2 separate regions of the Homo sapiens genome follow, and region 1 is linked to region 2. The links come from fine-mapping of genetic effects on gene expression. A gene starts in region 2. The other region holds a variant in brackets. All regions are shown on one strand. Distances are between the middles of the regions.

Region 1 (12,648 bases), 200 kb after region 2:
GAGTCATCTTCAATTTCTTTAATCAATGTTTTATAGTTTATAGGTCTTTCACTTCCTTGGTTAAATATATTCCTAAGTATTTCATTCTTTTTGATGCTTTTTAAAATAGGATTGTTTTCTTAATTTCTTTTTTGAGTAGTTTTAGCATATAGAAACTAATTTTTGTATATTGATCTTATAACCTGCAACTATACTGAATATGCTTATTAATTCTAACTGAGATTTTATGGAATCTTTAGTGTTTCTATTTATGATTATGTCATCTGCAGAGACAATTTTACTTCTTACTTTAGGATTTGGATGCCTTTTATTTCTTTGTCTTGCCTAATTGCTCTGGCTAGGACTTTCAGTGCTAGGTTAAATAGAAATGGCAAGATTGGGCATGCTTGTTTTGTTACAGATCTTGGATGAAAAGCTTTCAGCTTTTCACCATTGAGTATGATGTTAACTGTGGAATTGTCATCTATGGCCTTTATTGTGTTGAAGTGCATTTCTTCCGTATCTAATTTGTTGAGGTTTTTTTTTTTTTTTTAATCATAAAAGGACGTTAAGGGCCAGGTGCAGTGGCTCATGCCTATAATCCCAGCACTTTGGGAGGCTGAGGCGGGTGGATCACCTGACATCAGGAGTTCGAGACCAGCCTGGCCAACATGGCGAAACCCCATCTCTACTAAAAATACAAAAATAAGCTGGGCATCATGGTGGGTGTCTGTAATCCCAGCTACTCTGGAAGCTGAGGCAGGAAAATCGCTTGAACCTGGGAGGCAGAGGTTGCAATGAGCGAAGTTTATGCCATTGCACTCCAGCCTGGGTGACAAGAGTGAAACTCCGCCTCAAAAAAATAAAAATAAAAGGACATTAAAAAAGGAAATTGAATTTTGCCAAAGGCCTTTTCTGCATCTATTGAGATGATTATATGGTTTAAATCCCTTATTCTGTTAATGTGATATATCACATTTATTGATTTGCATATGTTAAATCATCCTTGCACCCTTGGGATGAATTCCACTTAATCATGGTGTGCAGTCCTTTTAATGTGTGGTTGAATTTGGTTTGCTAGTATTTGGTTGAGAACTTCTGAATCTATGTTCATCGGAGATATTGGCCTATAATTCAGTTTTCTTGTCTGGTTTTGGTATTAGGGTAATGTTGCCCTTGCAAAATGAGTTTGAAAGTGTTCCCTCTATTGAATTTTTTGGAAGAGTTTGAGAATGATTTGTATTAGTTCCTTAAATATTTGGTAGAATTCTGTAGTGAAGTCATCAGGTGCTGAACTTTTCTTTGATGGGAGGCTTTTTATTACTTGTTCAATATCCATACTCATTATTGGTCTGTTCAGATTTTCTCTTTCTTTGTGATTCAGTCTGGTAGACTATATGTTTCAGGAACTTACTTATTTCTTCTAGGTTATCTAATTTGTTGGTATATAATTGTTAATAATAGTCTCTTATGCTCCTTTGTATTTCTGTGGTATCAGTTGTAATGTCTCCTTTTTTCTGATTTTGAGTCCTCTCTCTTTTCTTCTTAGTCCAGCTAAAAGGTTATCAATTTTGTTTATCATTTCAAAAATCCAAGTCTTAGTTTTGTTCATCTTTTGTTTCTCTCTTTTTTATTTATTTCTGCTCTGATTTTCATTATTTTCTTTCTTCTATTAACTTTAGGATGTTAGTTTTTATTTTTCTAGTTCCTTGATGTGTAAAGTTAGGTTGTTTATGTGAGACTTATTTTAACTTCCTGTTGACATTTTACCACTATAAACTTCTCCCATAGAACTGCTTTTGTTGCATCCTATACAAATTATTATAGCTATTGCTATTTTTAATACTTTCATCTTTTAACCTTTATACTATACTTATAAGTGATTTACAAAGAACCACTACAGTATTATTCTATTTGACTTAGCTTTACCACTGAGTTTCAGACTTTCAAATGTTTTCATGTTACTGATTATCATCTTTTCATTTCAGCTTAAAGAACACCCTTTATCATTTCTTGTAAGATAGGTCTAGTGGGAATGGACTCCATCAGCTTTTCTTTGTCTAGGAAAGCTTTTCTTTCTTCTTCATTGCTGAAGGACAGCTTTGATGGGTGAAGTATTGTTGGTTGAAAATTTTTTTCTTTCAGCATTTTGAATGTATCATCCCACTCTCTCCTGGCCTGTAAGGTTTCTGCCAAAAGCCTGCGGATAATGTTAGAGATTACTTTGTATGTGACAAGACTCTTTTCTGTTGCTGCTATCAAAATTCTCTTTAATTTTTGATAGTTCAGTTATAATGTGTCTGTGAAGTCTTCCTTGAGTTGAACCTATTTGGGATCCTTTGAGTCTCGTGTACTGGATATCCACATATCTCCCTAGGTTGAGAAAATTTTCAGCCACTATTTCTTCATATAAGTTTTCTGCAACCTTTTCTCTCTCTTTTCCTTCTGATACTTTCATAACATGAATGTTAGCTCTTTCTTGATGGTATCCCATAAATCTTCTAGGCTTTTGTCTTCTTTTTTTAATTCTTTTTTCCCTTTTCCTCCTCTGACTCAACATTTTCAAGTAACCTGTCTTTGATTTCATAGTTTCTTTCTTCTGTTTGACCAAGTCTGCTGTTAACTCTATTGCATTTTTAAATTTTATTCCTTATATTCTGTATCTCTGGAATTTTGTCTGGTTCTTTTTAAGTGACTCCTATCTCTTTATTGAACTTTAGTTCAGGTATTGTTTTCTTGATATCATTTAGTTTTTTATTTGTGTTCTCTTGTAGCTTTCTGAGCTACAATGGTTAAAACAATTACTTTGAATTCTTTGTCAGGCAATCTGTAGATGACCGTTTTTTGGCATCAGTTACTGAAATATTATTGTGTTATTTTCGTATTGTCATGTTTCCTTAATTTTTCCTGTTCCTTGAGGTCTTGTATTGCTGTCTGTACACTTGAAAAAACAATCACTTTTTTCAGTCTTTACTGACTGGCTTCAGGAAAAGGAAAGAAATGCCTATACCAGTTATCCTGCCTATGGATTCTGAGGCTCACTCAAAACTTTTTTATGAATGTGCCTGTTTCATACTTCTTGTTCCCTTTTGGCAGGGAATTCTTGAGATTGTATTGCCTCTCTCAATCCCACAAAGCCAGATCAGATGTTGAAAGCCTCTCATTTGTTTTCCACAGGGTAGTGCCCTGAAACGCTCAACTTTGTATGCCTTCTCCTAATCCTGTACAGTCAAGTCAGCTATCTGCATGGGATGAACTTACCATCCACGGGGACAGGCTTGAGGAGGAGCTGGCCTGGGGAGGGAAGATGAGGTGCACAGAGCATTTGGGATGCTGGTGGATCAGGTGTGGAGGGGGTCCATAGATGAGGTGTCCCAAACAGCTCATGGGCAATCTTCCTGATGGAATCTATGGAGCAGTTAGTAGGGTACACAACATCTCTTCCTTGCTCCCAGACTCTCCCAGCCTGTCAGCTTTGCTGATCACCTCACTAATACAGGTGAGGTAAGAAAGAGGTGGGCCTCGTTGGCAGCACCTTGCATGACTGGGAGAGATGGATGGTCACTCACTATGCTCTTACTTTCCCCTATGGGAGAAATGGGACTGGGTGGGGGTGTCTCTTGGCACCAAGCTATGCCACCATAGAGGAGAGGTGATGTGCGTAATGTGAAACTCTTTTTGTATATTTTATGTTTTAAGAGACAGGGTCTTGCTCTATCTCCCAGGCCGGAGTATAGTGGTGTGATCATAGCTCACTGTAACCTGGAACTCTTGGGCTCGAGTGATCCTCCTGCTCTAGCCTCCTGAGTAGCTGGGACTGTAGGCACATGCCACTATTCCTGGCTAAGTTTTGTTTTGTTTTGTTTTTAACATTTTTTGTAGAGACAGAGTTTCACTGTGTTTCCCAGGCTGGTCTTAAGCTCCTGAGACCTCAAGTGCTCCTCCCACCTTGACCTTCCAAAGTGCTGGGATTATAGGCATGAGCCACTGCACCTGGCCAAAACTGTTCTTCTTACTCTTTTCATGCATCTATTCTCAGATTTTTTTCTCCAACAGTGTGCTGGAACTTCTCCACTGGTATCGTGCCACCGCACTCCAGCCTGGGTGACAGAGCAAGACTCCATCTCAAAAACAACAAAAACAAAAACTTCTCCACTGGACTCCCAGACTCCCACTATTCATGAGTACTTGTCAAAACTGATGCCTCTGCAAAAGAATAACAGTAGAAAGCTTCTATTCTGTCAACTTGCTGACATCCCAAAGCTGGTTTATTAAGAATGTCATGCTTTGTATATAATATTGATAATAAAAACAATAAATAATTTGTTTTGAGCACCCTCTGGCCTGATAACTTTGTATATGTTATCTTATTTAACGATGACATTGGGAACAATAACATTTGCCATATAGTGTGGATTTTCATAGGCTAGCCTCTGTGCTTTATGTAAATTATTCAATGGCGCTTATCAACAAACTTACATTGTTATCTGCATTTAACAGATGGGGAAATTCAGTACGCTCATATTTAAGTGGCTGACTCAGCATTTGAACCCAAATCTGTCCAGGACAAGGGCCATACTCCTCTATCCACTAGGACACTCTGGCTTCCTCACAGGGAACAAGGTCATGGCCTATGCAGCTTAACCAAGCCCTGAAAACCTCTCCCACCCCAACACACATAGGTGCAGCTGGTACATCCACATGCATTCTGGCCCTGTGACAGTCAGGGCTCCTATTAGCTGATACACAAACAGAGAGAACACAACCCCCCGGGAGTGTTTCATTAGACCTGCATGTGGTCTGTTAATAGATGTTGCTCTAGCATATTCAATGGTACCAATTTGGCCCCTGACTTTTTTTTTTCCACAAAAAACCCTCAGTGGTGTATCATGGAAGCGGATCTGGAAAGCCAGACTGACAAACTTAGGCTGAGAGCTAGTCCTAACTGCTTGTCTTTCTTGGGTTAGGTCAGACCCTCATGATTCTCAAGCACCCTAAGCCACCTAGCAGAGTTCTAAGCAAAAGGTTGCTTCCCTGACCCAGCAAATCCTCAGTTTCTTTGTCTGAAAAACAAGATGATTAGACTAGGGAAGTATTTTTCAAACTTGAAAGGTTTTGTTCATAAAAACAACTTAGACTTAGCATTGACAACCATTTTTTGTTATATAATGCATTTTTCACATCTGTTTGCTTGTCTTTTTTTCCCTTTAGTCTGTTCATGTTGCCGTAATGAAAATACCAGAGACTGGGTGGTTTAAGCAACAAACTTACTTTCTCACAGGTCTGAAAAAGGCTGGGAAGTCCAAAATCAAGGCACCAGGAGGTCCAGAGCTTGGTATCTGTTGGGGGGCCACTTCTTGGCTTGTAGAAAGCACTCTGCTTTCTACCTTACTTGTATCATTTCATTCATTTCTCCTAGCAACCTAAAGGCACAGATATTATTCCAATTTTACAATTGAGGACACAGAAAGTAAAAGACTTAACTAAAGTTAAGCCTAATCAGTGAAATAACTGAGATTTGAACCCAGGTCTAGATTGAGCCTAAAGTACCAATACCCATAATCACTGTGTAGGCTGCTTCTAATGGAATTTTCCACATCACAGGTGCCCTCATCTCCCGTCTCCATTGCTTTTTTTCATCCAGATTTACCACCATTTCCACCTTTGTTTTGGAGCTTCTTGCTGTCCCTTCACAGGGAAGGGAAGATGGAGAGGAGAGAGAGATAAATACATTTTATGCATATCCATATTCCCAGCCTATTGCACAGTCCCTGGCACACAGTGGACATTCAGACAATATTTGATGAATAAATGAACATATGTATAAATGAGTAAAGGAATGGATGGAAGACTGGATGGATGGATGGATGAATGGATGTCTGAAACAATCAGGAGAGTTGCTGAAGATGTGGGAATAACCCATGATGTCGTGGTAGACGACCTCTTATACCACAGGACGAGAAGTGATAAAGAAATGGAATATGAAGACCTTATTCCAAAAAAGCATAGATGTGGCAATGGCATGAAGCCATCAATGAATGTAGTGATATCTCAAACAGACCGCACTTAAAGTTTACTTGTCTAGCCAACACATATTAATAAGCATCCATTATGTATATATGAGTGCATGTTGGCACTGTGCTGGAAGCTCCAGAATCAGAAATGAGTAAGACACAGCTTGTACCCTTAAAAAATTCTTGGTTATGAGGACAGACAAACATATAAACAGAATTTTTACAATACAGTCAGTCTAAAACAGAATGTATCAATCAGTATAGGTCAGTTAATACTACAGTAACAATCGACAACTTTCAGTGTTTTTAATCAACAAACCTTGTCCTAAATGTTCATGGCCTCCACTCATATAATTCTCACTCTAGGGCCCAGGCTGACATAGCAGCTGTTGCTGGTTGCTGTGGCAGAGGGAAAGGAACCCTAGTACACTGTGCCTTAGCTCGTAAGGAGCATGTCACTTTCACTCATGTTTGCTTCATCAAATTCATGTGGCCATATTTAACTCCAAAAGGGCTGGGAAGAATTTAACTCCAAGGGGGCAAAGGGAACACTGGAAGCATCTGGTAATTATTAAACAGATGTATAAATAAACTGCACTGGGAGTACACAAAAGGGCATTACTATGAGTGAGCAGCCAGGGTCCTGTTCAAAGAGGAGCTGCCGTTTGAACTGAGTCATGAAATGCATGCACTCGTCACACTGATGCACAGGGTCTAGGAGGTTAGTCTACAGGGAGGTCAGTCACCTTCATGCTGTCTGGAGGTGCCCCAGGGGTCCCTATCATTGTGCAGTGTACAGTGACAAAACTCCATCTGCAGTATGTGTGGTGGTTTCAGCTTCACTGGAGACATTATGATGATGCTGAAAATTACTAATTTTTTTTTCTTTTTTCTTTTTTTTTAGACAGAGTTTCATTCTTGTTGCCCAGGCTGGAGTGCAATGGCTTGATTTTGGCTCGCTGCAACTTCTGCCTCCCAGGTTCAAGTGATTCTCCTACCTCAGCCTGCTGAGTAGCTGGGATTACAGGTGCCCGCCACCACACTCAGCTAATTTTTTTTGTATTTTTAGTAAAGACAGGGTTTCACCATGTTAGCCAGGCTTGTCTCGAACTCCTGATGTCAGGTGATGCACTCACTTTAGCCTCCCAAAGTGCTGGGATGACAGGTGTGGCCATCACTAAATGAACACTTAC[C/T]CTGTCCAGGGAGGTTTATTGAGGCAGAATGCTGGGCAGCTCAGTCACAAAGGACCACAAGTTTCGACTATGACATCATGTTCAAACAATTTATAAATAAAATCACAAAGATTTCCTGAGAAGAAGATATTTATCATTCAGACTTTGTGTCTAATTTCTAGACACAGAGTCATGAGGAACCTTGAATTAATATTTTCTAGAATTCCTATAATCTTGCATTGTATTTTTGTACTAAAAAAGTGATAATTCAAAAAAATGTATACATAAAGCTCTTCCTCAATTTATGTAATATTGTTGCTATTCACTTTCTATCTAAGAGCCTTAAAAAATGGGAGGTCTGCATCCCTCTTGGCCTGGGCAAGGCTCCCGTAGGTACCAGGCACTCTGCTTTCTAACTTCCTTGTATCATTTCGTAATTTCTCCAGGCAACCTAAAGGCACAGTATTATCTCAATTAAAACAAATGAGAAAATGAAGGCTGAAAGGCTTAATTAACCTTAAGCCTAATAAGTGGAGGAAGTGAGATTTGAACCCAGGTATAGCTTGATCTAAAAGCCCTGACACTTATAATCACTGTGTAGGCTGCTTCTGATGGAAATTTCCACATTGCAGGGCCACTTACCCTCCTTGTTGCTTTTTTTCACCTGGGTTTACCAACATTCCCACCTTTCTCTTGGAGCTTCTGCTTCCAATTGCTCCTCCTGACCCAGATGGAGGTGGCAAGCTGGGAGAAGCAAGCACAGAGAGTCAGCATTTTGTCAAGCATAAAGTCAGGAAGGAATCCCACTGTTGTACTAGAATCTGATGGTTTCCATAGCAACAGAATCAATCAATCAGTTAATCAACAATAAATTGTTGAGCATCATCCATAAACTCAGTTCAGTGTTGCAACTTGAAGGGCAAGGAAGAGGGAAGAGGGTGGGAGCAGAATTATGAAGATGAAGGAGGCACGGGGCGAGCTGTGGGTGTGGGCGTGGGTATGGCTAGTTTCCTGCACCAAATCTGTGCAGAGAGGCCAGAAGTTGGCTGTGATTCAGAAAGGCAGATGGATATCATTCTGAGCTGCTGCTCAAAACTCTAAACCCCAGAGCCACTGTTGGTTGATCCACTGTGTTCAGGTACTTTTACAGAAACCCTGGCAGCTCCTGAATGTCAATAGAGGAGGAATTAGGGGCAGCCATATAGTTGCTTGAGTGTGGGCTAAAGGTTGTGTTGTGAAACTGCATTTATTTAGAAAGCATACTGACTTTTACTTAAATTTAAATTTCAGATGGCCGGGAAGTAGGCGGGTCTAATCAGGAGGAATTAAACTACCCCCTCCCTGTTCTTGACCAAAGTATTTATTAAAGACCTCTTAAGCACATGTCACTTTGCCTTTTCAATGTGGATTTTAAAAGCAGAACAAAGACTGAGGATAATTAAACATACTCTAAGGAATGGTGAATACATTCATAACAAATATAAATTGTAAAAATTGAAATCTACCAGCATTACTACGATGCAGCTCTGATGGCATCTCCAGTTCCTTCTCACTAGGCAATGGGTAAAGTTCTCAGCAGGGAAGGCTAGGACCTGGTCTTCTGTTGCTCTCACTGGCCCACAGCAGTTCTTGGTGGCCCTGTCACTTCCTTTGTTCACAGATGTCATGCCAGTCATGGAGTTAGCTCTCTCCCTGTTAGTTTTAAGGGAGAGAGCTTTTGCCAACTGTATTTCCAGAGCGCTGCCTACTTCTGCTGCCTGCTGCTGTGCAGATCCCTGTTTAAAGACTGGAAATGAGGAGGCAGGAGAGCCAATTCTCAAGCCCCAACACACATAAGAATCACCTTCAGAGCTTGTGAAGAATTCATATTTTGGGGCCTCACTGTCAAGATTTACTGAGTCGGAGGAGGGGTCAGGAATCACTCTCCAAACACCTCACAAGATTCTGAAGCCTGCAGGACCACCTCTGGGAAACACTAGTGTGCATGGTGGTTGGGAGAATGAATTCTAGTCAGGGAGGTCTGTATTTTCACCTCTCATATCTTGTCCTCTCAATTGTAAAATGGGGAAAAGAGCACCTTCCCTTGGGAGGCCAAGTGCCACCCCAGGCCCTGCAGCTAGTAAGTGGCAGAATAAGGCTTGTACTTGCTGGCCCTAAAGTTGCATTTAACCTCGATGTCAGAGTGGGTCTAAAAGCTGTGATATGACTCCTCCCCAGGTCTCCAGCCACCGCAGGCCAAGTGGGGTGTCATGTCCATGAGGATGATAAAGAACATATGAGTAGTGCTCACCACAGAGGATGTACTCAGAAAATGTGTGATGAATAGATGATCAGACAATAATTACAGCGGCATCATTTGTGGAGTCCCTTCTCTGGACTGGACCCTCCACTAGTGCTTCTGAGTCCTGCCCTGGAAGTGGGCCCCACTATTTGTCTATATAGTGACCACTCATGTGACAGCTACCAGCTCTCCCCCTCCCTACCTCAGGACAAATTAGGGGATATGACGCCCTTCATCTAGCTTCTTTCCCCCTCTACTCTACCTCCGTACCCTGTCTCAGAACTCATCTTCCTCATCTATAAAGTGGGGATAATTGACCCTCTTTTTCCTGCTATTGGACTACAAAATGAGACGACGTCAGTGCTATGGACCAAATGTATGTGTCTCACCAAAATTTATATTTTGAAGCTGTAATCCCCAATGTGATAGTGTCTAGAGGTGGAACCTTTGGGGGGTAATTAGATCATGAGGGTAGAGCCCTCATGAATGGGATGAGTGTCTTTTAAGGAGCAGCCAGGGAGTGAGCTAGCTTTCCCTCAGTCACGTGAGGATACTGTGAGAAGGCATCCCTCCACAAACCAGGAAGTGAGCTCTCACCAACAACCAAATCAGCCAGCACTTTGATCTTAGACTTCCCAGACTTCATACTGTGAGGAATACATTTCTGTTAAGTCACCCAGTCTGTGGTGTTCATGTTCTAGCAGCCCAAACTCACTTAGACAACCAACATAAAGTGCCCCCTCCACCATAAAGGATGTTTCTGACCCCTCTGGCTCCCTTCCAACTAAGGATGTGTATTAGTCCGTTTTCACGCTGCTGATACATACCCAAGACTGGGAAGAAAAGGAGGTTTAATTTTACTTACAGTCCATCATAGCTGGGAGGTCTCACAATCATGGCAGAGGGCAAAAGGCAGTTCTTACATGGCAGTGGCAAGAGACGATAAGGAAGAAGCAAAAGCGAAAACCCCTGATAAACCCACCAGTTCTCGTGAGACTTACTCACTATCACGAGAATAGCACAGGAAAGACCAGCCCCCATGATTCAATTATCTCTGCTGGGTCCCTCTCACAACACCTGGGAATTCTGGGAGATACAATTCAAGTTGAGATTTGGGTAGGGACACAGCCAAACCCTATCAGAGGGCCAACCACATTGGCAGCACTCAGCCCCAGTTCAGGGTGGGCTACACTCATGGGGGTGGGGTGCACAGGGCCATCAGGGATGCCCAGCCCTTGAGTCAGGGTGGGAAGCCAAGATAGTCCAGTGGGCCACAGCTGGTGCTGCCTTGTTGCTTCTGTGAATGTACGTGCCCTCTCAGAACACTGTCTTTTCTTGGAACTGGTGAAAGGAGCTAGAAATGTGTGCAGGGCACCAGGCCTCTAGCATGGCCTATAGTGGGGGTGTCCTCAGGGACCTTCATTGTTCCTTTGGTTCCCAAAAACGCCACTAGATCTTCCTAATAAACAGGTGTTGACAGATTCTGATCCTTCTGGAACAACTTCCCCTTCTCCTAGCTGTCTTCTGCTGGGTCCCCCTGGTTCAGTGCACAGGCAGGCAGTACAGCACAGGGCAGGGATTCTCAGATGTTGGTATGTTTCAGAGTCACCAGGAAGGTGTGATAAATGCACATCCCCAGGCCCTGCCCCAGAGGTCCTGACTCAGTGGGTCTGTGGAGAGGCCCAGGAATCTGCCTTTTTAACAAGCATGTCCACATATTCTGATGCAAGCAGTCCTCTGGTCACAGTTAGCACTGACATGACTCGGGTTTTCGAGTCAGGCTGGCCCAGGATTAGATCCTGGCCGTGTGGTTTGGGCAGGTCATGGAGCTCCCAGGCTTCTGTTTACTCTTCTGGGGAGGGTGCCAACCTACTCATTATTACATAGTAAGGGGTAAACTAGTTCATTTAGACTGTGTGCTTTAGCAAAGCACCTACCACAGCAGGTGCTTTGTGAAGGAAACTTTTCCTAGGGCCAGGAGACTTCCCGCCTGCCCCCTAAGCCTGTGCACCACCACCTGAGTGCATGTCTCTTCTGATGACATGATGGGGAGTTATCTGAGGGCAGGTTGGTTGTCGGCTTGTTCTGGGGGCTGCAGGAAGAAAGAGGGGACCCCAGGGTGGAGGTGAGCTAAGAAGAGAGAACTTGTGAGGTGGAGGTTGCAGTGAGTCGAGATCACGCCACTGCACTTTGGCCTGGACGACAAGAGCGAAACTCCATCTCAAAAATAAAAAAATAAAAAAATAAAACATGAAAATACGGTAAAAAATTACTGAGAGTTCTACTGTAAGGCCAACAACAGATTCTAATAAAATAACCAGAACTAATATTAGGCTTCACCTGTGCCAGGCATTGTAGTTGCTGACATCTGTTCCCTCTTTTAACCCTCACAAGAGTCTTCTGGAGTAAGTGATATTATCATTATTTCTTGGTTGAATATTGTGTTGTTAGAAGATCAAGGAAGTTCTTTAAGTTGTGCAGCAAAACTGCATCTGCTGGCCTTCAGAGCCTCTTTAAATCCAGTTGAAAAAGAATTCCTCAAACTAGTGGCACTTGACCAAAATGTTACATGTTGATAGAAAAATATGCTTAAATATGTGTCAGAAAATTATGATGCTCTTTCCCTTCTGAAACAATTCAGTCCTAAAATCATTAAACAGGTGACCAAGGCAGCTTGGTGCAAAGTATAAGACCTCAAGACGAGCAAGGAGGTGGACACTCTGGTGATAACCGTGACTCTGCTGGGCAGTCCAGACTGGGCTTATGAAAGGCAGCAATGCATGGAGGACCCTCACTCCATAGACAGTCAAGCATTGCATAGTGATAACATTTCGGTTGAGGACAGACTGCACATACAACATACCTTATTTTTAAGGTATTACTGCACCTTTTCTACGTTTAGAGTTGATAGATACACACATACTTAATGCTGTGTTACAGAATTCAGTACAGTAACATGCCGTACAGGTATGTAGCCCAGGAGCAATAGGCTGCATCATATGGTTATACGATCTAGGTTATAGTAGCTAGGTTTGGGTAAGTTCTCCACGATGTTCACATGACAGAATCACATAAAGAAGCATTTCTCAGACTGTATCTACATTGTTAAGTGATGCATGACTATATTTCTATATTATCCGATTTTCTTTTGCAATAAATGTATACTCATCAATAGCTTGCATCATCTTTGAAAATTAAAACT
Region 2 (12,648 bases):
GTCAGCAGAGTAAACAGACAACCCACAGAGTGGGAGAAAATCTTCACAATCTATACATCTGACAAAAGGACTAATATCCAGAATCTGCAGCCAACTCATGTCAGTAAGAAAAAAAACAATCCCGTCAAAAAGTGAGCTAAGGACGTGAATGGGCAGTTATCAAAAGAGGATACATAAATGGCCAACAAACATATGAAAAAAATGTTCACCATCACTAATCATCAGGGAAATGCATCAAAACCGCAATGCGATACCACGTTACTCCTGCGAGAATGGCCATAATAAAAAAATCAAAAAACAGTAGATGTTGGCATGGATGCGGTGATCAGGGAACACTTCTACACTGTTGGTGGGAATGTAAACTAACACAGCCACTATGGAAAACAGTGTGGAGATTCCTTAAAGAACTAAAAATAGAACTACCGTTTGATCCAGCAATCCCACTACTGGGTATCTACCCAGAGGAAAAGAAGTCATTATTCGAAAAAGATACTTGCACATGCATGTTTATAGTAGCACAATTCACAATTGCAAAATCGTGGAACCAACCCAAATGCCCATCAGTCAACAAGTGGATAAAGAAGCTGTGGTGTATATATATATATATACAATGGAATACCACTCAGCCATAAAAAGGAATGAATTAACAGCATTTGCAGTGACCTGGATGAGATTGGAGAAATTATTCTAAGTGAAGTAACTTAGGAATGGAAAACCAAACATTCTGTGTTCTCACTGGTATGTGAGAGCTAAGCTATGAGGACGCAAAGGCATAAGAATGATACGATGGACTTTGGGAACTTGGGGGAAGAGTGGGGGGGGTGAGGGATAAAAGACTACAAATATGGTGCAGTGTATACTGTTCGGGTGATGGGTGCACCAAAATCTCACATATCACCACTAAAGAACTTACTCATGTAACCAAACAGCACCTGTACCCCAATAGCTTATGGAAAAATAAAATAAAATAATAATTAGATATGTCCCAGGAACTTACTAGAGAGATAAAAGAGTATTTAGAGAGATAAAGACCTGCATCCTGGGTTGTCTGATTCCAGAGACAGTATCTCAACCTTAGTACTACCTGTTTTCCCTGTCTTAGTACTAGGCTGTAGGAGACAACATTAGGAAGACAGTAGTTCCTGGCCTGGTAATGCTGACAGTTTCATAGGAAATAGACGTGTAGCAAATCATGAGACCCCAACAAGGAAAGTATAGTATCAGAGAATGAATCATATGTTATGGGAGCACTTTTAAAAGAGCAGATTTGGGAACACTGACTTTGCTTGTTCTGGGGTTGTGGCAGTCAAGGGGGTCAGACAGTCTTCAGAGGGGAGATAACATTTGAGCTGGGTCTTGAAGAATAGAGTTTTTCTGGCTCTAAGGTGGTGGAGTGGATGACTGTAGGCAGAGAAACAGCATCCTCAAATACACAGTGTCATGTAATTGGTAATGTGTGAGATGACCACAAGATTCTAACCATGGTGGACAAGTGAATAGGAAAAGGAGCAAGTACAAGAAAGTGAGGGAAGAGCAGGACATAATGAATTGAGTTTGGAGCTTGTTGAAGTGGGTGGGTATTCCAGGTCATAATGTCCGATCAACAGTGAAATGTTACATAATACGGGTTTGGAGCTTTTAACAGGTGGTAAGTGAGGTACAGATCTTGGAGTCATTGGTGAGTAATGGATGGTTAAACCAGTGAAGGTGGCTGCGATCACCCAGGGGGACATTTAATTCAAGAGGAGCAGATAATGGAGCATAACATCTTGGAGCCCTGAACTTTAGCTAGCAATGCTACGATAAATGCTACCATTTATCCGTATATGGGTTAAATGGGTTGTTGGAGTTGGCTTAAGACCCTAGCCACCATTTAGAAAAATTTCTATGTAGAACTGCAGAGTAAGTTCAAGCAACTTAGAATTTAATTTGGGGCCACAAACTGAAGTTGGAGCTTGGTTGTACTTCTTTTTGCATATCCTAAATATACCTTTTTACTCTATGGCTCAGTGTGCTGGAACTTGGAAAGCAATTCCTAGCTTAGCCTGCCTACACACTTTGCATTTTTATTGCATTTGAGCATATCTTCAGCTGTACTTGGTATTTCAGGCTTACTTGGTTCATTTGTAATTCAAGTATGATGACATACAACTGGTACAATTAAACTAGGATTGACTGTCATGTGCCTGGCATTGTGTTGAACTGCTGTTTGTTCCCTTCTGCCACTGTGATTAGTACCATAAGGAAATGTGAGTGTGGTGAGTTTTTAACTCAAGTAGGGCCTTTTCAGAGAATAATATTGGTGATAAAAAGGCATTGTTTGCAGCGTCAGGAATACTGATGTGGTGAGACTCTCAAAACCTCTTTCGTAGGCCTCTATGTGATGTTACAGTAGTCTCACTTTATCCAAGGTTTCGTTTTCTGCAGTTTCTGATGAAATCTTGCACCACCCTACTCTGTCCACTCAGGATGTGAATCCTCCCTTTGTTCAGCATATCCATGCAGTACCTCCTCCTCAGTCACTCAGTAGCCACCTCAGTTGTCAGAGCTCCCGTCAAGGTATTGCAGTGCTTGTGTTCAACTAACCTTTATTTTACTTATAGTAGCCCCAAAGCTGCAAGAGTAGCAATGCTGGCAATTAGCATATGCCAGCTAGAAGCTATAAAATACTTCCTTTATGTGAAAAGGTGAAAGTTCTTGATTTAATAAGGAAGGAGGGAAAAATCGTAAGCTGAGGCTGCTAAGATCTGTAATAAGAACGAATCTTCTATCCATGAAATTGTGAAGACGGAAAAAGAAATTCATGTGTAGCCTGTATAGGGTTTGATACTATCCACAGTTTTGGGCATCCACTAGGAATCTTGGAATGTTTACCCCATCAATAAGGGGGGACTACTGTGTTCTATAATTCTTGGTCTCATTTTTATTAAAATAGTGTGAAGTGGTTTATTGGTTTTTTTGTTTGTTTCAAGTACATTTGAGAGAGTGAAACCCTCTGCTCTTTTCTGTGTTTACTGTGTGTGACTATTACTAGAGATCTAGGAATATACTTACTATTTGGCACAAACTGACTATTCAGTGTCTTTGGTTTTATTTGTAATGTACAAAAACAAGAGGTTGGTTCACTGTAAGAGCTGCTTGTATCTTCCTGTAACCACTTAGTAAGAGCAACAGTGATTTACAGTGATTTACCATAACGCCTCTGAGAAAAGAACTACTTTTAATAACTCAGCCTTCGTGTGAGGTAAGGTGAAGGGATATTCTTGTTTCATTAAAGACTGTGACTTCGGCCGGGCACAGTGGCTCACGCCTGTAATCCCAGCACTTTGGGAGGCCGAAGCGGGTGGATCACGAGGCGGGTGGATCACGAGGTCAGGAGATCGAGACCATCCTGGCTAACACAGTGAAACCCCGTCTCTACAAAAAAATAGAAAAAATTAGCTAGGTGTGGTGGCAGGCGCCTGTAGTCCCAGCTCCTTGGGAGGCTGAGACAGGAGAATGGCGTGAACCCAGGAGGCGGAGCTTGCAGTGAGCCGACATCACGCCACTGCACTCCAGCCTGGGTGACAGAGCGAGACTCTGTCTCAAAGACTGTGACTTCAGGAGTTCAGGATAAGTTTGGGACAGTGGTGCTGGGCTAAGAGGAGGGCTTGGCAGGGCTCAGGAGGCCCAGGCCTGGCTGAGTGGAGAGCTGAATGCCTGGGGAAGAGGAAGAGGAAGTGATTCCAGACCTCATGCCTACCCTTGGATTTTCTCAGGACCGCCTCCCCCTTCAGAGCACACCAGTGCAACTTGCAACTGCCAGCAGTAGCATTTATTTGCCTGAGCCCTTGTTTTGCCTCTGGAGCCCATTTTGGCTATCCACATGGCAGGCCAGAAGTTCAGGAGCATCCTGGGAGAAGGAGCAGACCCCTGGGAGAAGCCTTCAACCAGTGACTAACAGGAGGTGGAGTACAGATACCACAGCTCTGTCACCCCTTGGCTTGGATAGCTGATGTGTACACCTTACACTGGCTTCCCAGCAGGCTTCAGCTTGTCACCCACAGTGGTAGCTGGCTTGACAAAACTCTATTGGTTGCTTTCCCTTTCTTGTCACACTTCTCCACTTCCCTATTGGTGTTTGCCTTCATCTCCCAAATGAACCCTCTCACTAGAGTATTTGTCACAGGAGATGCTTTTGGGGAAAGCTAAGAACTAAAACACCTCACCTCTTTCAGAAAGAAAGTTTCAGGCTTCTGGTGTAAATGCCCTCACACTTACAAGGTGGGCATGATGAGCAGGGAATCAAAGTGAAGACATTAGTTAGGTGGCCCAGATTACAAATATGCCGGCTAGCAAGCACCTTCTGTGGTACTTGGAAGAGAGTGCTTGGAAGGGCACTGGCTACCTTTGATTTCTTTCTCTGAGCTTGACGCTGACTATTCCTCTTCTATCCATACACTCTTTGTTGACACTGGGCACAGTCAATTGACTAGGATTCTGTTTTCTAAATGACCATCATATTCCGGCCTTGCCTCTCAAGATGATGCCAGGTCATCTTGATGGAGCAGCAAGTCTACCTAAGCTTTTTTCTTTTTGAGACGGAGTCTCGCTCTGTCGCCCAGGCTGGAGTGCAGTGGCGCGATCTCGGCTCACTGCAAGCTCCGCCTCCCGGGTTCACGCCATTCTCCTGCCTCAGCCTCCTGAGTAGCTGGGACTACAGGCGCTTGCCACCACGCCCAGCTAATTTTTTGTATTTTTAGTAGAGATGGGGTTTCACCGTGTTAGCCAGGATGGTCTCGGTCTCCTACCTCGTGGATCCGCCCGCCTCGACCTCCCAAAGTGCTGGGATTGCAGGCGTGAGCCACCGCGCCCGGCCCCCAAGCTTTCAGTGTTTACAGGCAGTCTCTTGGTTTATTTCCTGGAGCTAAAGATGTATTATTTCATCGGCCTAGCACCTTGTCCCTTCTAGGATCTGTCACATAATCCCCTATTTCAGCCATTTAATCCTGTGAGACCTGCCAGGTCCTTCAGTATAATTGAGGGTTATCTGCTAGCCATCCTTTCCTCCAGACACAGTTGCTTGAAGAGTACATGTGAAGTGGAAAACTGGAGACAAGAGTAATACCTAGGTTTGAGTCATTGTTTGGGTCCCAGCCCAAGGACATTGCTCCCCAGGGCACGTTGACACAATGTAAAGAATCTACATGGTGTTTCCTGTTGGGGGTCAGGGGTGGTTACCAGTAGTCAACCAGATATTGCATGTCTTGCACCAGAGGGCAATGCAGTGAGAGATGTATACAGGGGTCTCTGAAAACCTCACATTTAGGAAAAGAAAGCCTTTTAACCAAGGCCAAAAATGTTAAATGGCTTGCCCAAGATTTCACAGCTAGGAAGTGACAAAGCTGGGATTAAACCCTAATTACAGAGCCCATGGTCTTTACTACAGGCTTGTGGGTGGCAGAGGACCCAGTGACTGGGAGAGTTTTCACAGTGGAAGTGAAAACGGGTGAGCAGGATAGCAAGGTTTCCTGAAGAAGTAGATGGGGAAGGAAAAACAGCATGGGTCATAATATCCCTTAAAGATATAGCTTCAAGGACTTCCATGGCAGAAAAATTCAAGTTACCCAAGAGGTGAGCACACAGCTAAACTTCTCTTTTCCTTCGCTTCTTTGATGGTATCCGAACTGCTTTGAAGAGTTTCCTTGAAAAACAAAGCTCCCCAGATTGCATTCCTGGGGGCTGTCAAAGAAACTGTAATCCTTTAATAAGCCCTCCAGCACCTCTGGTATCTGGATACTCCGGGGACTTGGAGAATCCTTAACGTCTCTATTTTTTGGTTTGCCTTTTTCCTGGGACCGCCGGGACGCAGCGATCCATTTCGATATTGAAACTGTGCCAAGGCTAAGGCTTAGGTGGAAACAAATGGAATATATCCTTGTCACTGACCCGGCTTTGCCAGCATGCCCCCTCATCATCCCAAGTGCCCCTGTGGGCTTCCTCCCACCTGCCTGCCCTGCTTCCTTTACAAGAGGCTAAGCCGACACCACGCGAGTGTGTACGCGCTGGGGACTGAGCCCCCGAAGCGAAGCCCTGTCGGAGGAGTTTCAGGCGGGAGTGGGAACGGCTGGGCGTGGGGTCAGCAACGGCGCCACCCGGTAGGGTGGGGGGAGCCAGGCTTGTCAGAGCCAGAGCGCGTCACCGTCGCCGCGAGAGACGCCGCGCTGCCCAATAGGCAGAGGCGCTCCCTAGCAGCCTGGTGGGAGCAGAGATATAAAAGTGCTCCAACAAACCCGGAGCTGGCGTGCCGACCGCGGGCTGGTGGCGGGCGGCGCGGTGCTCCGCGCGTCCGGGCTCCCTGGCTCCTCGGGACGGCCTTGTATGCTGTGCGCCCCGCACCCCGGCTGCGCGCTCCGATCCCAGCGGGAGGGGACGCCCGGCCCGCAGGCTCCCAGGGGAGGGGTGGCTCCTGCAAAATGGTCCCTCACCTCTTGCTGCTCTGTCTCCTCCCCTTGGTGCGAGCCACCGAGCCCCACGAGGGCCGGGCCGACGAGCAGAGCGCGGAGGCGGCCCTGGCCGTGCCCAATGCCTCGCACTTCTTCTCTTGGAACAACTACACCTTCTCCGACTGGCAGAACTTTGTGGGCAGGAGGCGCTACGGCGCTGAGTCCCAGAACCCCACGGTGAAAGCCCTGCTCATTGTGGCTTACTCCTTCATCATTGTCTTCTCACTCTTTGGCAACGTCCTGGTCTGTCATGTCATCTTCAAGAACCAGCGAATGCACTCGGCCACCAGCCTCTTCATCGTCAACCTGGCAGTTGCCGACATAATGATCACGCTGCTCAACACCCCCTTCACTTTGGTAAGGGGCCCGCTGCCTGCCGCCCCACCTTCTGTCTTCGTCTCCCTTTCCTCTCTCAGTTCTCTGGCCTCCCTCTGCCGTTCTGCGTCTCCCTGTGGGTCCCCACTTCTCTCTCCACATCTCTCTTCCTCCTCATTTCTCCTCTCCTCTGCCTCTGTCTTCCTGTCCTAGTCTCTTTTCTCCCTCCTCTGTCATCTCGGTTCTTGTATCTCTCCTGTTTTTCTTAGTCTTTCTTTCAGTCTCTGTCTCTCTCTCTGAAGTCTTTCTGTCTCTCTTCTCTATCTCTCAGTGTCCTCATCTTTTTTTTTTTTTTTGTCTTTCAGCCTCCCTATTCATCTGTCTCTGTCTCCTCACCTGTTATCTCTTTTTCTTCTTGTCAGTCTCTCTGTGATTTTATTTTTCTATTCTCTCTCCTCTCCTCTCCTCTCCCCACCTCTCCTCTCTTCCTCTCTCCCCTGCCTCACTCTCTGATTTCTCCCCACTTTTTTCTGTCTCATCGCCTTATCAGCCAGAGCTTCTGCGGCGGTGGCATTGGGTCAATGGTTTGAGTGTCTGCAGCCAGCTGGAAATGAATGACCATTTCCTGTTTAATCTCACTGGGTCTGGGCTTGCTTGATAATTGAGCAGTAAATCAATGCCCCTGAAATGTCAGCAGAGATGATCAGGTCCCCCTCCCTCTGAATTGCAGCCTGTTCAGTGCCCAGCCGTACCCATGGGATACTGCTTTGTGCTACAACTGAAATATCAAACAATTGCTAATTGTTAATGGAACATTAAGTGCATTTTCCCAGACCACTTATTTAAAGTGCATTTCCCTTCTGTGGGTTGATAATGAGGCTGTGTTTGAGGTCTGTGTTGAGGAAGAAATGAGGGGAGGTGGGCTTGGGCCCCAGAAATCGGGCAGGCTGGGGGCATTTGCACATTGGCAGCTGATGGGATTCTTCCCCAAGCCCTGGCTACTTAGCGCTGGTGGTGTCCCGCTGTGACCGGGGAGTGTGGCTCTCATGGATGATTTGGGACTGTAAGGGCGATGACTGAGCAACCATAGTGACAGTTATACTGCATGTTTCTCTAGTGTGTTATATTTTTTCATTTTATGGAATAACTTTGTCATTTGAGTGATTACTAAAGCAATATCTATTAATCCCTCTCTGTCTGTCTCCTTGCCATCTCTCATACACAACCAGATATAACAGACAAGCAAAAAACACAGGATGAACCCCCACAAGTCCATCACCTGTGTGAACATCCTTCCAAATCTTATATTGAAAAAGTACCCTCACATTCTCTTTCTCATCCTCACTTATTAGAATATTACTCACATTTTGCAGATGAGAAAACTAGGGCACAGAGAGGTTCAATCCCTTGTCCAAAGCCACCTGGCCAGTAGTTGGCAGAGCCAGGATGAGAATTCCATCCCCTAACTCAAATCCAGAGGTCGGTCCACTAACCAGCCAGCTGGGAGTGAAGGACACTCTTGGACCATGTTTAGCTTCTGCTACTCCAAACCCTGGACTTGTTCTGATCTCCTTTCAGCCTACGTCTAACGTATTGATGGCCACTTAATATCCCCTGGGCATTACCCAAGGATGAGTGGGCTTTCAAATACTCTCCTCCTCCCTGGGTGTCTCAAAGCACAAGACAACAGCATCCCTGTCACCCGTTGGCGCCTCCCTTGGTTTCTGACCTGAGAATCTACAGTGGTACGGTTGGGCTGTGCTACCTAGGTTGGGAACTGGGAAGCCACAGAACATGGCCTTTTTTGCTGCTGCCCAGAGCCAGGATACAGGGCTGGATCTGCAGCAGACACAAGAAGGGGTAGGGAGGCCATGGACGCGAGGACAGGCTACACCTGAGAGCTGGCAATACCTGCCCCAGAGGATCTCCTGCAAGAGACAGGATGCCAAGGTCCTCAGAGCCCAGCACCCCCTCCAGTATGAGCCAAAGCAGCTTAGCCTTGAACCTGACCCATCAAGCTGCCCCAATCCAAACTTGGATTACAGTTTATAAGGTGCTGGCAGGTAGGAAAGGGAGAAGGTTGTGGGGAGGGACTTCCAACCCCTTGGCCTTACTCAGCACAGGCTCCCCCATCGGGAAAGGCATCCCTGCCTTTGCCTGATTGGCAACAATATCCTTCTTCCCTGGTCTCCCTTCCTGTCCACTTAATCTACTGCAGTCAGCATGAAGCCTAGCTCTGATGATGGACAGAAAAGCAGACAATTACTTACAGTTCCCATGGTAGATAAAGATAGATGCACAGAGAACGTAGAGGAGGGAGTCTTTCATTCTGACCCATCAGAGTCCCACGAGAGGGTCAAAGGAGACTGCAAAGAATGTGACATTTCAACAGGACCTGACTGAATAGAAATTTCCCGGGTTGAGATGAACACTTAGTGCAGACAGAGGGACCAGGGAGAACAAAGGCATCGAAGCATCAAAGTTCACTTTGTGTTGAGGGAACATTGAGTGGCTCAATGAAGCTGGAGCATCAGGAAGCACAGCGGAGGAGTGGGCAGGGGAGGGAGAAGCGGAGGTGGCCAGAAGGAAAGGCGGGGCCAGGTTGTGAAGGGGCCTGGATACTCTGTCCTGAGAGCCAGGATGATTCCAAACAGGAGGGTGACAACAATATGATTGTGGTTAGCAGAAATGCTGTCAGGAGTGTGAAGGCTGAATTCCAAGGTGACAAACCTGGAGAACTGGGAAAGCTGTTCAGAGGCTATAATAGTCCAAGGGAGAGATAATGGGGTACCCCACAAGGCCCATGGCCTTGGGACTGAAGAAGAGGGAACAGTTTTGAAAATCAGTGAGAGGCAGAACTGGTTGGATTTGGTAATCCCAATGTGAAGGGTGAGAAGTTGGAATAGCTGAAGATTTCTAGCTCTATAATGTTACTGAACTGCTCAAAAGCCTCAATGGCTCCTCCCTGTCCTCTGCAAAGAAAGTAACATCCCTGGTCTGTTGTCCTAGTTTCAAGATCTGGCCGGACTTGACATGACTCTTGTTCACACACTCCAGACAAGCCAATCCACTCCTTATTCCCCAAACAGGTCCTGGGATTTCTGATCCAGTGCCAATGCCTTTTGTCCTCATCTCCACATGTGCAAATCCCTCTTCAGTTCAAATGTCTCATATGTTGTAATAATGGCAGTTGATAGCGTTAAGTACTTGCTATGTACTAGGCACTGTTGTACCTACTTTACATGTGTTAACAATCTTGATTGATGTAACAACCATGTGAAAAGGGTTAGCCCATTTTACAGATGAGGAAAGTGGGGCTCAGAGGGCCCAATGCCTTGCCCAAGGTCACAGTGATCAGTGGCAAACACCCTGCTGTAAGTCACTACATTATACTCCTTCTCTTGGGCCAACTTGCCCTATTTCTATGCCTCTGTGCCTCTGCCCACTCCCATCCCTATGTGGTGGCCCCATTGCCCTTTAATCAGTCTCTACAGAGCACTGATTACTTTCTGTCTTGCACTTGAGTTGAGCCCGCCTCTGCCCTGGCTGCAAACTCCTTAATCAGAATCAATGCTCAATCTCTCTCAGGCATGGGACGTTACTCACAGGAGCTGCTCAAGTACTAATTGAATGAGTAAATAGTGCTGGGTGATGTGGGATAAGGACCGGGCCTGCTTCTAGGGCCCTACACGGTTTGGGGAGCTTGTCTTCTCTCCCCACACCTGTTCATACCTCTCCAGGTCCCTGGGTGTCCTCCCCAGATGATGACTTGCAAGGCCAGTTTAGCCAAGATTTGCCAGCACAGCCCACATGCTATGTTGTGACAATTCAGATATGTCTCCCCTACTAGAGTGAACTTGTGTGGACCAAGAATGAATTTTGTTATTGCACATAAAGATAGCTACTATTTACTTCTAATAATATCTGAACAATCTGCCAGACATTGTGTTTTGCCCTTTACAGACATTTAAAAAATTTAAACCTTATACTAAGCCTATAAGGAAGAGATTTTTTAGGGCTTTTTTTTTTTTTTGCAAATGAGGAAACAGATTCAGAGAGGTTACCTATCTTGCCCAAGCCCTCACAGTAAGAAACTATTAGAGGTGGGAAGTCCAACTCCATAGCACACATCCTTCCCAGGCTCTCCTGGCACCTAATGGAGCCTGGCCCAGAAGCATGATCAGGGTTTGTTGAATTGAATGAATGAAAATGAGTTGTGCTGGAGAAAATCATGTTTACTCCACAATTCAGTATCATAGACAGAAAGAAGGGAGGAGCTGGAGGAATCCCCCTAAGGGCATGCTCCTCAGAGACCTCTAGGGATGGGTGTCAAAGTCAAGGCCTGTCTGTCTCCTAACATCTTTGGGCTCATCTCCAGGTTCGCTTTGTGAACAGCACATGGATATTTGGGAAGGGCATGTGCCATGTCAGCCGCTTTGCCCAGTACTGCTCACTGCACGTCTCAGCACTGACACTGACAGCCATTGCGGTGGATCGCCACCAGGTGAGGGCACCTACCCCTAATGCTCTGCTCTTCCCTCTCTTGCTTCCCTTTCCTGGAAGTTGCAGGGGCTCTGAAGACAGTGTTTTAGCCCAGTTTTCAATGAGTGTGTTTCTCTTCTTATTGATCAACATGAACACATAGGTTAGGGATATTAAGCCCTTTGTCATAATTTTTTTTTGAGACAGAGTTTCACTCTTGTTGCTCAGGCTGGAGTGCAGTGGCACCATCTCGACTCACTGCAACCTCCGCCTCCTGGGTTCAAGCAAATCTCCTGCCTCAGCCTCCTGAGTAGCTGGGATTACAGGTGCTCGCCACCACGCCTGGCTAGTTTTCGTACTTTTAGTAGAGATAGGGTTTTGCCATGTCGGCCAGGCTGGTCTCGAACTCCTGACCTCAGGTGATCCACCCGCCTCAGCCTCCCAAAGTGCTGGAATTACAGACGTGAGCCACCATGCCCGGCCATTGCTGGCATTTTCTGTCTCAGAAATTAGTGAGCTTGTTTGAGGATAGAAAAGCAAACCCGGAAAATCACAGATGAAAGGAGAGAGGAGTAATTGCAGGTCAGAGATGAGTGAGAGATGAATATTCACCAATTCAGGCTGTTCAGACGGAAAACAAGCCAGGATGTCCAGGTGGCAGGAGCAGGCATTGCAGTGGAGCATGGTGGCCCTGGGTCAGGAAGATGTTCTAATAGTTCTGCCCCCATGGGAAGCTCATGGGTATATATGGTGAAAGGAACTGACCAGGACATCAAAGAAGGACAGCTTCATGCCAGGTGCCTTTTCCATGCTTACTCAATGAACTCACGTTGTACGCTTAGACCTACGCTGAATTATAGAATGGAGGCTCAGGAAAGTGCATATGTAGCTTTTCCGAGATCATGTGCCTGTGAATGGTGAAGCTAGGATTAGGACTGAGGTCTGTCTGGCTCCAAGCCCATGTTCCAGTCACTAGACCATGCTGCTCTGAGAAGACTCAAAGGAATCTACAAGGCCAGTATTATGAGGGCCACCAGACACAGAAAGATGAGATTTATTCTGAGTAGCACCATGAGATGCAGCAAGGACCACGGGATAGGAGGCTTCAAAGATGCAGATTCAAAGATACAGTCCAATGTGGGAAGAATTCTCTCATAGAAGTGTCTAAAGGTGGACAAACCTGCCTGGGAGGTAATGAGTTTCATGTCACCAGCCATATTAGAGCAAAGTGAGGATGACAACTTGATGGGGAGGTATTCGAGGAGATTCCAGCATCTGGTAAGGAATGGGACTAGTCAAAATTTGAGATCTCTTTATCTCTGAAATGCCAGAATTTTGTAAGAATCAATCTTAATTTATGTTGCAG

Which allele goes with the higher level. Alleles are on the strand shown, and positions count from the first base shown. SD is a standard deviation of normalised expression in the study named.
As copies of C replace T in region 1, the expression in cerebellar hemisphere of the gene that starts at base 6,284 in region 2 goes up (large effect, 1.3 SD a copy in GTEx).

Evidence for each region. PIP is the estimated chance that this variant, and not a neighbour inherited with it, causes the effect.
Region 1: its variant is fine-mapped to the expression of GPR83 in cerebellar hemisphere (GTEx, PIP above 0.99). The same link has a PIP of 0.9 or more in cerebellum.

The regions. Positions count from the first base shown.
Region 1 is chr11:94,195,151-94,207,798 of GRCh38, reverse strand. It overlaps LOC105369435 (a long non-coding RNA gene), which reads right to left and starts at 10,390. Exons shown (of 5, transcript XR_947901.3): 1 at 7,808-10,390; 2 at 5,251-5,402. The variant C/T (reference allele first, on the strand shown) is at 7,187.
Region 2 is chr11:94,395,055-94,407,702 of GRCh38, reverse strand. It overlaps GPR83 (G protein-coupled receptor 83), which reads left to right and starts at 6,284. Exons shown (of 4, transcript NM_016540.4): 1 at 6,284-6,842; 2 at 11,179-11,304. The coding sequence starts at 6,456.